3 separate regions of the Homo sapiens genome follow, and regions 2 and 3 are each reported to be linked to region 1. Evidence: microRNA targets listed by miRTarBase, many of them from high-throughput screens and not tested one by one. Region 1 holds a microRNA gene; each other region holds the end of a gene's coding sequence.
Evidence for each region. Region 1 holds the annotated microRNA hsa-miR-193a-5p (UGGGUCUUUGCGGGCGAGAUGA, at 2,126-2,147, opposite strand). A microRNA usually pairs through its seed, bases 2 to 8, with sites in the 3' UTR of a target mRNA and lowers its output. Matches are read on the target gene's strand: a 7mer-m8 pairs with bases 2 to 8, a 7mer-A1 pairs with bases 2 to 7 and ends in A, and an 8mer does both.

Region 2: the mRNA of ARSD is a reported target of hsa-miR-193a-5p. Seed matches in the 3' UTR shown: 7mer-m8 at 2,722-2,728.
Region 3: miRTarBase lists TP73 as a target of hsa-miR-193a-5p. Seed matches in the 3' UTR shown: 7mer-A1 at 3,676-3,682 and 8mer at 1,669-1,676.

What each region holds. Positions count from the first base shown.
Region 1 is chr17:31,558,058-31,562,162 of GRCh38, reverse strand. It overlaps MIR193A (microRNA 193a), which reads right to left and starts at 2,167; the gene lies at 2,080-2,167. RefSeq lists an enhancer at 2,364-3,154 and a silencer at 2,896-3,385.
Region 2 is chrX:2,903,441-2,907,524 of GRCh38, forward strand. ARSD (arylsulfatase D) reads right to left here. Exons shown (of 10, transcript NM_001669.4): 10 at 532-4,084. The coding sequence ends at 3,831. ARSD-AS1 (ARSD antisense RNA 1) reads left to right here and starts at 1,464. Exons shown (of 2, transcript NR_144459.1): 1 at 1,464-1,765; 2 at 2,128-2,682.
Region 3 is chr1:3,732,703-3,736,797 of GRCh38, reverse strand. It overlaps TP73 (tumor protein p73), which reads right to left. Exons shown (of 14, transcript NM_005427.4): 14 at 597-4,051. The coding sequence ends at 3,719. It also overlaps the pseudogene GFOD3P. Among named protein-coding and RNA genes, the nearest start is that of CCDC27, 18 kb to the left of the region's middle. RefSeq lists an enhancer at 2,555-3,343.

The DNA.
Region 1 (4,105 bases):
CTCCCCCTCCTACCAGCTTTCTACCTTGCATTTAGCTGCTTCCTGAAGAAGGCTCCAGGGTAAATCAGTCTATGTTCAAGCTACTTCCCCTTGAAACCTTGAGGTACCCATCTTTGAAAGAGGGACTGGGGGTGGGGGTAGGAGCCAGGAAGGAGGCCTCTGCTCCAGGAAACTATGAATTCAAGAGAGAGCAAAATCAAAAAGCTCTCCACTACAACACAATTCCTCAATACAACGGCTTACACGGAAGCATAAATCAGTTGCAGGAGGCCAGGCTAGCCCAGCCTACTGCATAGCTGATTCAATCACATTTTGCAAAGGAAAAAAACCCAAGAAGGAAAAACCTAATCACTCACTTCCCCCAAAGAAACGAAGCACCAAGTCATTTCCTAAAAATCTCTAAAGCCCTGGCCAGACCCAGAAAGAATGGGGCACAGCCTGAGGGAAACTGCCGGGGGCACCACAGTGCTCCTCAGGCCTCATTCCCAGCCCTGTGAGTCCACCTTCCCCAGCCGGTCCCCTCCAGGGTGGGTGCAGGGCAGCCAGCCAGGCCTGCTTTTCGGCATCTCATTGCTCCAGCCCACTTCTGGGATGTTTTATGACCACGCAATATTCTGGAGATTTCCACTTCATTTACTTTTAGACACTGATCCCCAGGGCTGGGAGAGGCATTGGTTCAAAGGGAGAACTTTGTTTTCCCAAGCTGATTCAGCGCTCCAAAGAGCATTTTTCTTAATTAGGGGCGAGGTCTCCAGTTGAAGCTCCCATCAGTTCCACTCCTAGACAATTTTGTCTCCAAACTAAGAATTTGTCAAGATGTTCAGAAATCTACCCCATGGCCAAACTCTTTTCTCCCATAATTCTGACATCTGCATGTTCCACTGGGTAAGCCTCCAGGACAAAGCTAACATGGACAAAAGTCAGGCCAACTGCAGGACGGGGTATGTCCCTTCCTGGCCTCCCAGGCCCAAACCTGCCTCCCTGACCCCAAAACACACCTGACTGCCTACCACACACCTGACTCCCCTGTGTTGGCTCCCACATGCCCCCAAAACAGGGACAACAGTATGGGCAGGACGCCTGCAAAGGACTACTCTACACGTGGCCTGCAGAGGCAGGGAGCCTGTGGGAAAATGCCTCTTGAATGGGTTTTTACACGACCTGGCAAGGGGTGGGCCAACCTGGCCGTGATGGTTCCTCCCTCTCACCCTCCCTCCTCCCAGCTCCTAAAAACCTCTCCTGTTTTCCAAAGCCAAGTAAGACAGGGACCAGACGTTCCCTATTTTGTCAACCAGTTCTTCACACAGTTCAAGTCACCTCACTGCATGTCCCCAGATGTTTTTCCACGGCCAAGAGCCAAAAACACAACACAAACAAAGGACAAATAACCAAAGTTCCAACACCAGGCAAACCCGAGGTTTCAGGGGTTGGTGGGTTTTTGTTTTCGGGGAGTAGAAGCAAACGCACTAGAGGAATAGATAAGAGACTTTAAAGGAGAGTTTAAGGAATTCCAGCAAAAAACTTGAAGAGGACTAGAGTGGGTCCACATTATGTTGCATCGGTCAGGGAACAAAAGACCGGCCATTGGGAACACATCCACAAAGATCCATCTTTAATGAAATGGTGTTTGGGAGAGGAACAGGGGCTTCCTGCGCCACCGGGCCAAACCTCCGCTTCCCACCTCCCCAGGGGCAATTCTAGAAGTCAGGCCCCGTTCTCCCCACCCCCAAGCTCAAGGTTGCCGCCCTGGAAAGCACAGCAGGGCAGGCCTCGGTAAGTGGCAGGGCTTGGCCCATGGGTAAGCCGGGTCCCGTCTGTCCACTCAACCCAGGTCGCCGGGGCGCGGTCCACGTCTGCCCAAAGGGTACGGACCCCAAGCAGTGACCGACTCACACTTCCGAGAGCGTCGCTATTTCTCCAGCGAAGTGCGGGGATTTCCCGAATCACCGCACGCAGCCGGGGCGAGCGCACCTCACCACTCCTTCTCCAGCGTGGACCTGAGAGGCAGCCTGGCCGGAGCGCACGCCAGCCCGGGAGGAAGCCGGCCTGGGGCGAGGACCGGGGAGAAGACGCTGGTCCCGGGGGCCGAGAACTGGGACTTTGTAGGCCAGTTGATCCGACACCCTCATCTCGCCCGCAAAGACCCAGCCCTCAGCTCCCATCCTCGGAGTTCGGGGTGCGTCCCCGACGGGCTTCCCGGGGCTGGGTCCGGTCGCCGGCTCTGTGCACCGCGCTCCGCTCCGCCGAAGCTCTGGGTGTCCCTCAGGCGGCGTTCCCCGGGAAAGTCCACCGCCCCGCCCGACCTCGGGTCGCGGGCTCCAAACCCAGCCCTCCAAGGGTTACACGACGCTCGGCGGCCTCCACGCCACCCCCGGGCCGCCTCGGCTCAGGCCGAGGGACAGCGCTGGGGGAGGGGGAGGTGCGGGGACCAAAGCCTCCCCACCGCAGCCCCACTCCCGAGTGGGGCGCAAGAGTTATGCGCCGAGAAACTTCGCCACGCTCCCACGCCGCGCCTGCGAGGCCCAGCTCCGCTCTGCCTCGGTTACCTGCGCTCAGCTCGGCGGGCGAGGGGCGCGGGGCGCGGGGCAGGAGCCGTGGCCGACCTCTCGCAGCAGGCCGCACCCTCCCGCAAGGCCGAGCCCGCACCGCTGCCTGGGCACGGGGGCCATAGCCGCTAGCCGGGGCCCGCGCCCCGACGTTCCGGGAGCCCCTCGAACTCCTGGCCGGGGGCCGTGGCCTCGCTCGACCTGCCCGGGACCTGGGGGCCGCCGCCGCCCCCTCCGCTAGGAGAGCGAGCCCGACGAAGCCGGGAGAGGAGCGGGGCGGCGAGACCCCTCGAAAGTTGGGGGGGTCGGCTTGCTCGCCGCGGCCCGACCTGGCTCCACGTGCTGGTGACACATCAGGAAGGCTGCGCGCCCCGCGGCTCCCGGCGGGCGGACGCGGCCAGCGCCCGCCCGCACCGCCTCCCGGAGCCGAGCGGACGGCGCCCCGCCCCGGCCCGCCCTTCGCCCGCCCCTAGGCGGCACCGCCCCCGGCCGCGACGCCCGCTCCAGCCTGCGGCACCGGCGGGAGAGACCCTGACGGCGGTGGGGGGTGGCCCGGGTTCCCAGGTCCCGGGTGGCCCGCACTGCCCCGGGGATGGGGTCCCGACGCGGGCGGCCCTACTCGACAGTCTGGAGTGCCTTCCTCCCAGTCACGCAGTCCTTCCCGCCCCGGAGCCCAGTAATTTTCCCTTTTCCTCCTTTGACCCGTCCGAGCAGCTGCCAGCGCTTCCTCCCGCGGAGACCGGCGCGGGGAGCCCCCTGCCGGCCGCTCCGCTCCCGGGCCGCGCCCCCGCCCGGTGGAGCGCGCCTGCCGCCGGCCTCAACTTCCCCATCTAGAACCTGGAGCCGCCGGGCACTTCTGGCAGGGCTTTGGTGGCAAAGATTATAAATTAAAGTGCCAAGCATAGTACCGGGCAGCATACTTTCTTGAGATGTTAAAATTTCGTGCTTTCAACTCCCAGTTCCAGCGGCCTGCAGACAACCTCTCTTCCTGGCTGTGCTGTTTGAAAAGCTGAGTTCCTTTAGGGAGACTGTGGAAAAGGAGTGGGACAGAAAAGCTTTGAGGCTGAGTAAGAGCTGTCCCAAGATTAGCGAGGGGTGGGAGGTCAGTGGAATCCCCTTGGTGGAGACCTGCTGCCCCACTGTCTCTCCGGAGACGCCAGGATGTGGGAGAGTAACTGCGTGTCTCCTCTGGGACCTGAACCAGGCCTCTACCAAGATCCCCAGCCTCAAGATGGCCAGGATTCCAGGCACCGTGGGTGATGGGGAAGCCCAAATAACCACTGAGGTTGAGTTTCCCAACCTCTTCAGGTCGAGATTTGGAGCCATTTAAAGAAAATAACGTGACATATCTGTTTGTGTCCCGACATAGATATTAGCTATGTTCCTGCCTTCTCTTTCCTGGCCTCACCAACCCAGATCATGCCTTTAAATCTCACTATGAGGCTGGGCACGGTGGCGCACACCTGTAATCCCAGCACTTTGGGAGGCCAAGGCAGGATTGCTTGAGCCCAGGAGTTTGAGACCAGCCTGGGAACATAGTGAGACTCTGTCTTTACAAA
Region 2 (4,084 bases), not on the chromosome of region 1:
ACAGAAAAGTCCAAAGATACACCAACAGCAGCCCAAGTTAGTCAACTGAAGCTGGCTCAAGGCTGCCCCCTTTAGGTGGAGACTAACCAGCTCCCTGACATCCTTCAGTTAACTGCACCTTCCTCCTTTTTGCTGCCTGGAATGTCTACATGCTGCCTGGAGCTATGGCAGCCATCTTGTGACCATGAGGCAAACCCTATGTGCAAGAGCAGGAAGCTGGAAAGAACCTGTCAGCCCTGGATTGCTTCCTCTGTGACCCCCATTACCTGGGAGAGAACACATCTTTCTCTTGTTTAAGGCGTTCTTATTCCCAGTCGCCCTCTCTCCCCTGTATAACCCTAAAAGCACAGGAGTACACTTGTGACTGTGACTTAAGTTTTTCAGAACGGGGGAGTTTGGATTGTTTAGTCCTCTCTCCATGAATAGTGAATAGCAATGCCAGGTGAGTTCCTTCAAAGCTGGGGGGTGAAGGGGTGGAGGTGGAAAAGTAGGATTGAGGATGGGAAATAAAAACAAACAAATGACACCATCCAGGGAGATTTGTCACATTTTATTCAGTATTTCTGCTGCACTGCCAGCCTAGGGATGCACTTGATTCCCAAGAAATGCAACTGTCCTATTCGCAGAGCCGTCCACAGGTACCTACCCCCTGGACTGCAGCAACTTTATTACCTTAACTAGCACAGAACAGAGGTTGATTTAAACTCCTTACACTCACTTCTCAGATCAATGAATGGGCAAAGAAACACCTCATGGCTCTGGGAAGGCATGCTGAGACCCGTTTTTGCAAGTCCTGAGGAATGGAAGAATATAGCTGCCAGGTATCCCAAGTCTAGGGCAGGGAGGGTAGTATCGGCATCACTTTCACTGCATTCTGTTGGTCAACGCAAGTCAGAGGCTCAGCCCAGATCCAAGGGCAGGGAAGAGGCTCCATCGTGTAGTTGGGCTCACTTGGAAGGTAATGGGAGGAGTTGGTGGCTGCTTTAAGACACATACCACATCTAGATTTCAACCTCCAGAAAAGTCCAAAGATGCACTCACAGGAGCCCGTTAGTCAACTGAAGCTGGTTCATGGCTCTCTTCTTCAGGTGGAGACTAACCAACTCCCTGACCTCCTTCGGTTAAGTGCTCCTTCCTTTTTCCTGCTGCCTGGAATGTCTATGTGCCATCTGGAGCTATGGCAGCCTTCTTGCAACCATGAGGCAAACTCTATGTGCAAGAGCAGGTAGCTAGAAAGAGCCTGCCAGCCCTGGGCTTATATCCTGCTTCCCAGGGAGCTTAAAGATAGCAAAACCCACAGCCATTTTCATCAAATGCCAGGAAATTCTTAGGCTGGGATTGTTGGGATTGTTTGAATGGTTGAGCGTGAAAGACTTGTTATAATGGGCTTGTTGAATACGGTGAAAGATGAGATGGCTTTTAGCTGCCTCCACTCCCCGTGTCCCATGCTCCATAGATGTTTCTTTTTTTTTTTTTTTTTAATCATTTTTTGGTTATGCCAGGTGTCTCCTGTGTGTCCCTCCAGATCCCTCTCCAGCCCTAGAAACCTGAGCTCTATAAATGTTGCCTCTCTCCACTCATCTTCTCTTTGGCTTCAGGTTGAGTTCAGCCAACAGATGCCCCTGTAGGATTTGGACACAGGGAGCCAGGGGAGAGGGGCATCAGCTGCCTGGTTAGCAGGGCTGTGATGATTCTTCTACCTATGACTCTCAGTGCTGTTGCCTCTTCCTCTGGATCTTGGAAGCTTCCATGCTGAGGTCTGAAGGTGGCTCCCTGCCTCCCACTGATGTCCTTAGAATCCCATCCTCACCTAATACCTGGTATTGAACACTGCCTTTCTTAGATGTCATTTAGGCTCTCGTTTCAATTCCCAGTATGCTTCCTGCAAAGACCTCGATAGATGGACTGAGGGGAATAGTGCAAGGTCCTCCCATCCCCAGTATTGGGATCTAGGGGCAGGGGGTCCCAGCTGTGCAGTAGGTTAGGACTACACTTCCATCATCAAAGCCACAGAGGGAAGAGGTGAGGATGAAACACACTAGAATTGACTTAGAAAACACACTGGCCAAATCTTAGCTATTTGAGGAATGTAGGGAGAAAAGCCACCTTCTCTCTCTATGTCTGAAGGTTCCCATGGCTGTCTCTTTGCCCAAGGGGCAAACTTTCCATCAGGGCATCTTCTGTGCCTCTGAGGATCATTTTCCAATTATAGGCAATGGTAGTACGTGTTTCAGTGCAGAATGAGATAGAGTTGTTTAATTTGACAATAAAGCGATGCGTCAAAAACCTCAGTCAACACAGTAAGTGTTTTCTTGTTTTCCTGCTGACCAACCTAATTCTGGTTTCATACAGGGCAGCCAGGTGCCCACCTAAAAGACTGCACTTCTCAACTTCCAGTTGTTTCTATGGATAATGGTTGGAAGCAGAAATTGGGTTGGGGCTTCCAGATAATCCCCCCTCACAGGGACTGCTTCAAGAGAAAGGGATGCCCTTTGGTTCTTTCTCCTTTCCACTGCCTGGAATGTGATGTCTGACACTGTGGCAGCCATACTGGCATAATGAGGCCAACTCTCTGCCATGCTAAGAGTGGCAGAGCTGGGAATTGAAAAGAGCCTGCTAGCCTTGGGTTGCTTCCCCTTGATCGGCTCATTACTTGGAAGAGAACACACCCTTCTCTTATTATTTTCTTTAAGGCATTTTTTTTTTTTTTTTTTTAAGGCAGGGTCTTACTCTGTCTCCCAGCCCGGAGTGCAGTAGTGCAATCTTAGCTCATTGCAGTTTTGACCTCCCAGGCTCAAATAATCCTCCCGCCTCAGCCTCCTAAGTAGCTGAGACTACAGCTGTGCGCCACGACATCTAGCTAATTATTTGTTTTTTGTAGAGATGAGGTCTCACTGTGTTGCTCAGGCTGGGTAGGTGTCTAACTCCTAGGCTCAAGTGATCCTCCCACCTTAGCCTCCCAAAGTGCTGGGATTACAGGTGTGAGTCACCGTGCCTGGCTTTGTTTAAGGCATTCTTTTTCCGCAGCATCTGTTACCAGCAGCCTGAAGCCATTTCTATAACAATATCAGGAAGACACATGGACAGAGACCCTAATGTATGAAAAATGCATCAATTATTTGAGATTAATGAGTCCTCATAAACAGAGACTGAGAGGCTCTAACTTTCCTCCGCTATGTGAGAGTAGGAACAGACACTCCTCCCTGTCCTTTTGTAAGGCTGTTATGTCATCTAGGTGATGAAATTGCAACAATGCTTTAAGACGGAGGGGTGAAAACATCGGGCATTGGCACAATGACGAACCCTGAGATTTAGAAGAGGAAGAGGAGGCATCAGTGGGTGCCTACTGGGACAGTCTTATTTCACAAATCAGGAAAGGGAAACCCTACATGGGCGCAGTGGCTCGTGCCTGTAATCCCAGCACTTTGGGAGGCTGAGGCAGGTGGATGACTTGAGGTCAGGAGTGCGAGACCAGCCTGGGCAACATGGTGAAACCCTGTCTCTACTAAAACTACAAAAATTAGCTAGGCATGGTGGCAGGTGCCTGGTGCCTGTAATCCTGGGTACTCAGGAGGCTGAGGCAGGAAAATCGCTTGAACCCGGGAGGCGGAGGTTGCAGTGAGCAGAGATCGTGCCATTGCATTCCAGCCTGAGGGACAGAGCGACACTCTGTCTCAAAAAAGAAAGAAAGAAAGAAAGAAAGTGGGGACCCACTCTCAGTCCAGGGCATGTTCCTTGCAAAAAGGGAAGCTGAAGATAGAACCAAGCTTGGAGAATTTTGTTTGCAACGCAGTCAGGCTCTCCTGGATCCTCTCTCACAGTCCTGGCATTCAGGGGGTGCCATCCCCATCCTCGTGGCATGAACAGAACGGGAAATGTCCGCAGCACGGCTGCAGCCACGGCTTCCACAGGATGTTGCTCATGGAAAACTGCTGGGGCACAGGACTCAGGGTCTGCCGATGCTCCGACACCGCGGCACCTACCCTTGCTATCACGGCGTGGTACAGGGGCTCGGAGTCGGGGGTCAGGGGCCGTGCCTCGGAGGGGTCCCTGGAGAGGTCAAAGAGCAAAGGGGGTCTGTGAT
Region 3 (4,095 bases), not on the chromosome of region 1:
CTCCCCCTCTTGCCTTGGTCCTTTCTATCTTTGTTTTAGGCCAATTTCTAAAAAGACTGAGGCCTCCTTCAAGGTTGAACAGATTTCTAGAGCCTTGTTTTTGCTGTGACAAGTCCCTAGTCCCTGTTCACAACTCTGAAACCAAGAAACCTGAGAACCAAGAGAACTGAAATGAAGCCCGTTGGTCTCAGCCTGGCTTGAGCCAACATGAGGCTCTCTGCTGCCTTTTGTTTTCTTAGGTTTTGCTGAGAAACGGGAGTGCGTTCTGTGTCGGTGTTTGTGACGCCCTGAGACCCTGCTTGGCCTAGCTAAAGTCCAGAAGGCCTGGGCCCCACAGGGCTTGGATGAGGGCTCATGGGCCTGTACTTCAGGAGGCCTGAGAGGCCCGGTCAGTCCCATGAGGCTACTCGGCTTGGCCCGCAGGTCCTCCGAGGCACAGGGCAGAGGGACACCCCAGGGACCCATCAGACTCACGACACAGAGAAACTCAAGTGGGGTGCCAGGGCCGGCCACAGAGGCCACGGGCTTCCTGCCTGTGAGGAGCCGCCCTGTTTGTCTGAGCCCTTTGGAGATTTAGGTTGAGTCATGAGAACCGGTCATTGGAACATACACTTTATTATGTTACAAAAACAAAAATCCCCACTGAAACACAGCTAAAAAAATAACACATTTTCCCAAGATTACATTACCAAAAACAGTTGTTATGTCATTGGAGGGCGTCCATTAATACTGCTCGGAGAAGCACGATCTTACACGAAAAACACGGATGGGATTTCGTTTTCACCTTAAAGCATTAAAGTGCTTTAACTGGTAACAGAGGAGTGGATGTTTGTGCGTTGGAGACACTGACTGTTCTGAGTGACAAGTGGCTCTGTGCCAGGATACTGCGGGTCGGGCTCCTGGGTACAGCAAGGGCTTCCCAGCAGCCCAGGCCTGGTGGGAACGCTGGGGGAATGGGGGAGAGTCGCTGTTTCTGACCAGAGCGACTTGGACAGATGTGAGCTGACCTGCCTGGCGAGCTCCTTCTGCCTTGCCTCTCTGAGCAGACTCAGGACCACTGCCTGTCCCCCTTGGCCCCAGGAGTGCCAGCAGCCTCCCTCCAACCCCTGCACTGCTGGGAAAACCATCCGCCTTCAAGATTTATTTGTTGATTTGTTTAGTTTTATAAAAACATATCACTTAAAGGATTCTTGTTCCTGGGAATTTGCATTTTCTCCTGACCACGGCGAAGTCTCAACTCTGTCTACTTTCACAGCTGCTTCTCCAGTGCAAGGAGGCTGCATGGGCTCCCTAGACAGGTGCAGCTGGGGCCATCTGGCTGCTCCGTGTTCTGGCCGGCTTCCTTGGACATCTGGCTGGGGTTCCAGTGACAGCTGCCCCTGGGCCTCTCCCAGCCCCCCCAGCCCCCCCAGCCCTTCCCAGGAGCACACTACAGGGGCTCTTGGGACAGCCTCACTGGACTCAGGGTGGACAGGTAACGTACCTAAGAAACAAATCAACAAGCCCTCTGGAACTGAAGCACATCTGCGCTGGGCTGAGGAACCCCGGGTGTCAGGATGGGCCCCCGCGGCTCCTGAAGTGGAACATGGGGGAAGAGTGGGGGCTTCAGGAGGTGGCCTCGGGTAGCAGGTGCCCAGCCCCCAAGAGATGGGTGTGGTGCCTGGGGCATGGGTCTTAGCCTTTCTGGTCTCAGCTTCCTCATCTACAAAATGGCAATAAGATGGAGAGCTGAGGTGACATGCAGCTGGGGTGGCTGCGCCACCCTGGGAAAGCCCCGAGTCTGCTGCTGCTGCCGCTACTGACTGATGCCCTGGGCGTGGGCACCTTTCTAGGGAGATGGAACCCTAGAAGCTAAGCGGCCAGAGCTTCCTGCCCTTCAGCTGGAAGGAGCCGGAAGGAGCTGGAAGGAAGGGCCAGGCCCTCGCCCTGGCTGCAGCCAGATCCCCTGAGAGCCGACAGCCCCGTTCCTGCTGCCCCCACAAGCGTGCACCCAGGCGACTGTGCTGTCAGCGGCCCCCGGGGAGGTGGACGGTGGGAGAGGGATGCCTGCGTCTTCGTAGACCAGGTACCTGCGGCAACACCAGTCGCTGCTTTTAAATAAGGGGAGGCTGGTGACGGTGATGCCACTTAGCAAGATGGAGTCCTGATCTGGGGATGGGGGCTGTGTCTAACCTTGCTGTGCCCTGAGGGGCTTAACTGCTTTTTCTGGGAGATGTTAGTAGGGGAAGCTCCTAGCCCTTAGGACCACACATACCCTAGGCAGGGGGTGTGGAGCTGGCCGTGCCAGAAGGGGCCAGGCAGCCTGCACTCTGGGTGGTGTCTCGGCTTGCGTGGGTGAGGGCTCCCATTGGCCCACCTGCCTGCAATGAAGGGCCTCGTCACACCCGTGAGGCCCCCCAGGGGCTCCGGTTCCCTGCCCTGAAGCTGTGCTCCGGGACGGTCAAGGTTCGGCCACCAAGGCTCAGGCTGCTCCTCGTGGATGGAGGTGGCCCCAGAAAGGGCCTGTGCAGACTCTGTCTCCCCGGGGCCTACTAACTCCCTGGGGTGCTCCACGAAGGCCTAGACCCCCCTACACCTACCTCAGTCTGTTCCCTGACTGCCACCGCCTAGAAAGGAAAGCAATGCCCTGTGGACCTTGCAGTGCTAGAGAAGGTGGCCGTGGCAAGGGAGGAGCTGCTCCCATGGCAGAGCATTCCTGCAGATTTGCCTGGATTTGCCCTTCCTGGGGTTCCCTCTAGGCTTCCTCCCCACCCGGCCTTCCTGGGAACAAGTCCCGCCCACCTGGCTTCTCACTCAGCTTCCTCAGCCTGGCTCATGGGCGCTAGGTTGAACTCCAAAGAGAATGCTGAGAAAGAAAGTTAAAAAAAAAAAAAAAAAAGCTGACCCACCATGTAGAAAAGGGTATCATTTTATCAAATATTGACAATTTCCAGTCCTCTAAGGACAGGCTGTCCCTTTCTGCTGAGGGGTCCCCGAGGAGAGGCGACTGTGGCCAGGCTGAGGGGCACTGGCTGAGGCGGTACCACATGCTTCCCCGCGCCTGGGGGGGGTTGCGCCCTCCCCAGTTTTCTCCAATTTCAGCAACACTGTGGTTGTTGTTAGGGGCAGGAAGGAGGCGGTCCTGCAGAATACAGCGTGCTGGGGGCAGAGGCCAGTCCCAAGTCCAGCAGAGAGAGTCCCCAGCCCCCGGCGCGGGCAAGACGCAGTTAGGGACATTCCCTGAAAATACACTGGTGTTTCAGACACAGTCACTTGGCTGCTCACTACTATCCAGAACCAAAAGATGTCGCAAAATACTTTTTGGCAGTCCATCAGCAAAGAGGATCCTTTCCTTTGGAAGGACCTCGCCTGGTTGGGAGATGACAGTCTCTAGGATGAAGCCTGGAAGTCGGAGCCGACGCTGCGGTCCCCACCCACGCCTGCCATGGAGCACGCCGGGGCAGTGGCAGGGCTGAGAGTGGGCCAGCCCCCGCCCCACAAGCCCAGCACTAGGGCAGCTCCAGAAGGTTCTGCAGGTGACTCAGGCTGTCCACAGGCGGCTTCGGTGGCTGGGCCTTTCCTGGGGCCTGTGAGGTGCCTGGGGATGGGCCGGACCTTGCCTTTCCCCGGGCACAGCCCGAAGGTCCTGCCTCCTGAGGCAGTTTTGGACACACAGGAAGGAGAGGGGAGGCAGCTTGGGTCTCTGGGCGGTGGCGCAGGCTGCAGCCAGGCGAGGCCCTCAGTGGATCTCGGCCTCCGTGAACTCCTCCTTGATGGGCTGCTTGCGGGCCTTGCAGTCGGGCAGGTCGAAGCCGAAGTCCGCCCACTCGTCAGGGCCGCCGCCTGGGCCGCCGCGGTTGGGGATGGTGATGGTGTGGCGCACGCGGAAGTGCACGGCCTCCATGACCCGCTGGCGCTGCAGTTCCCCTGAGCCGCCGATGGAGATGGTGGCCGCGTTGCTAGAGCGGAGCAGCTGCTGCGCGGTGCTGTAGTCGTGGCCCTGCTTCAGGTCCTGCAGGCCCCGCCAGATGGTCATGCGGTACTGCTCGGGGATCTTCAGGGCCCCCAGGTCCTGCGAGAGGCCGGCGCATTAGGGGCAGGGGGCAGTGGAGCAGG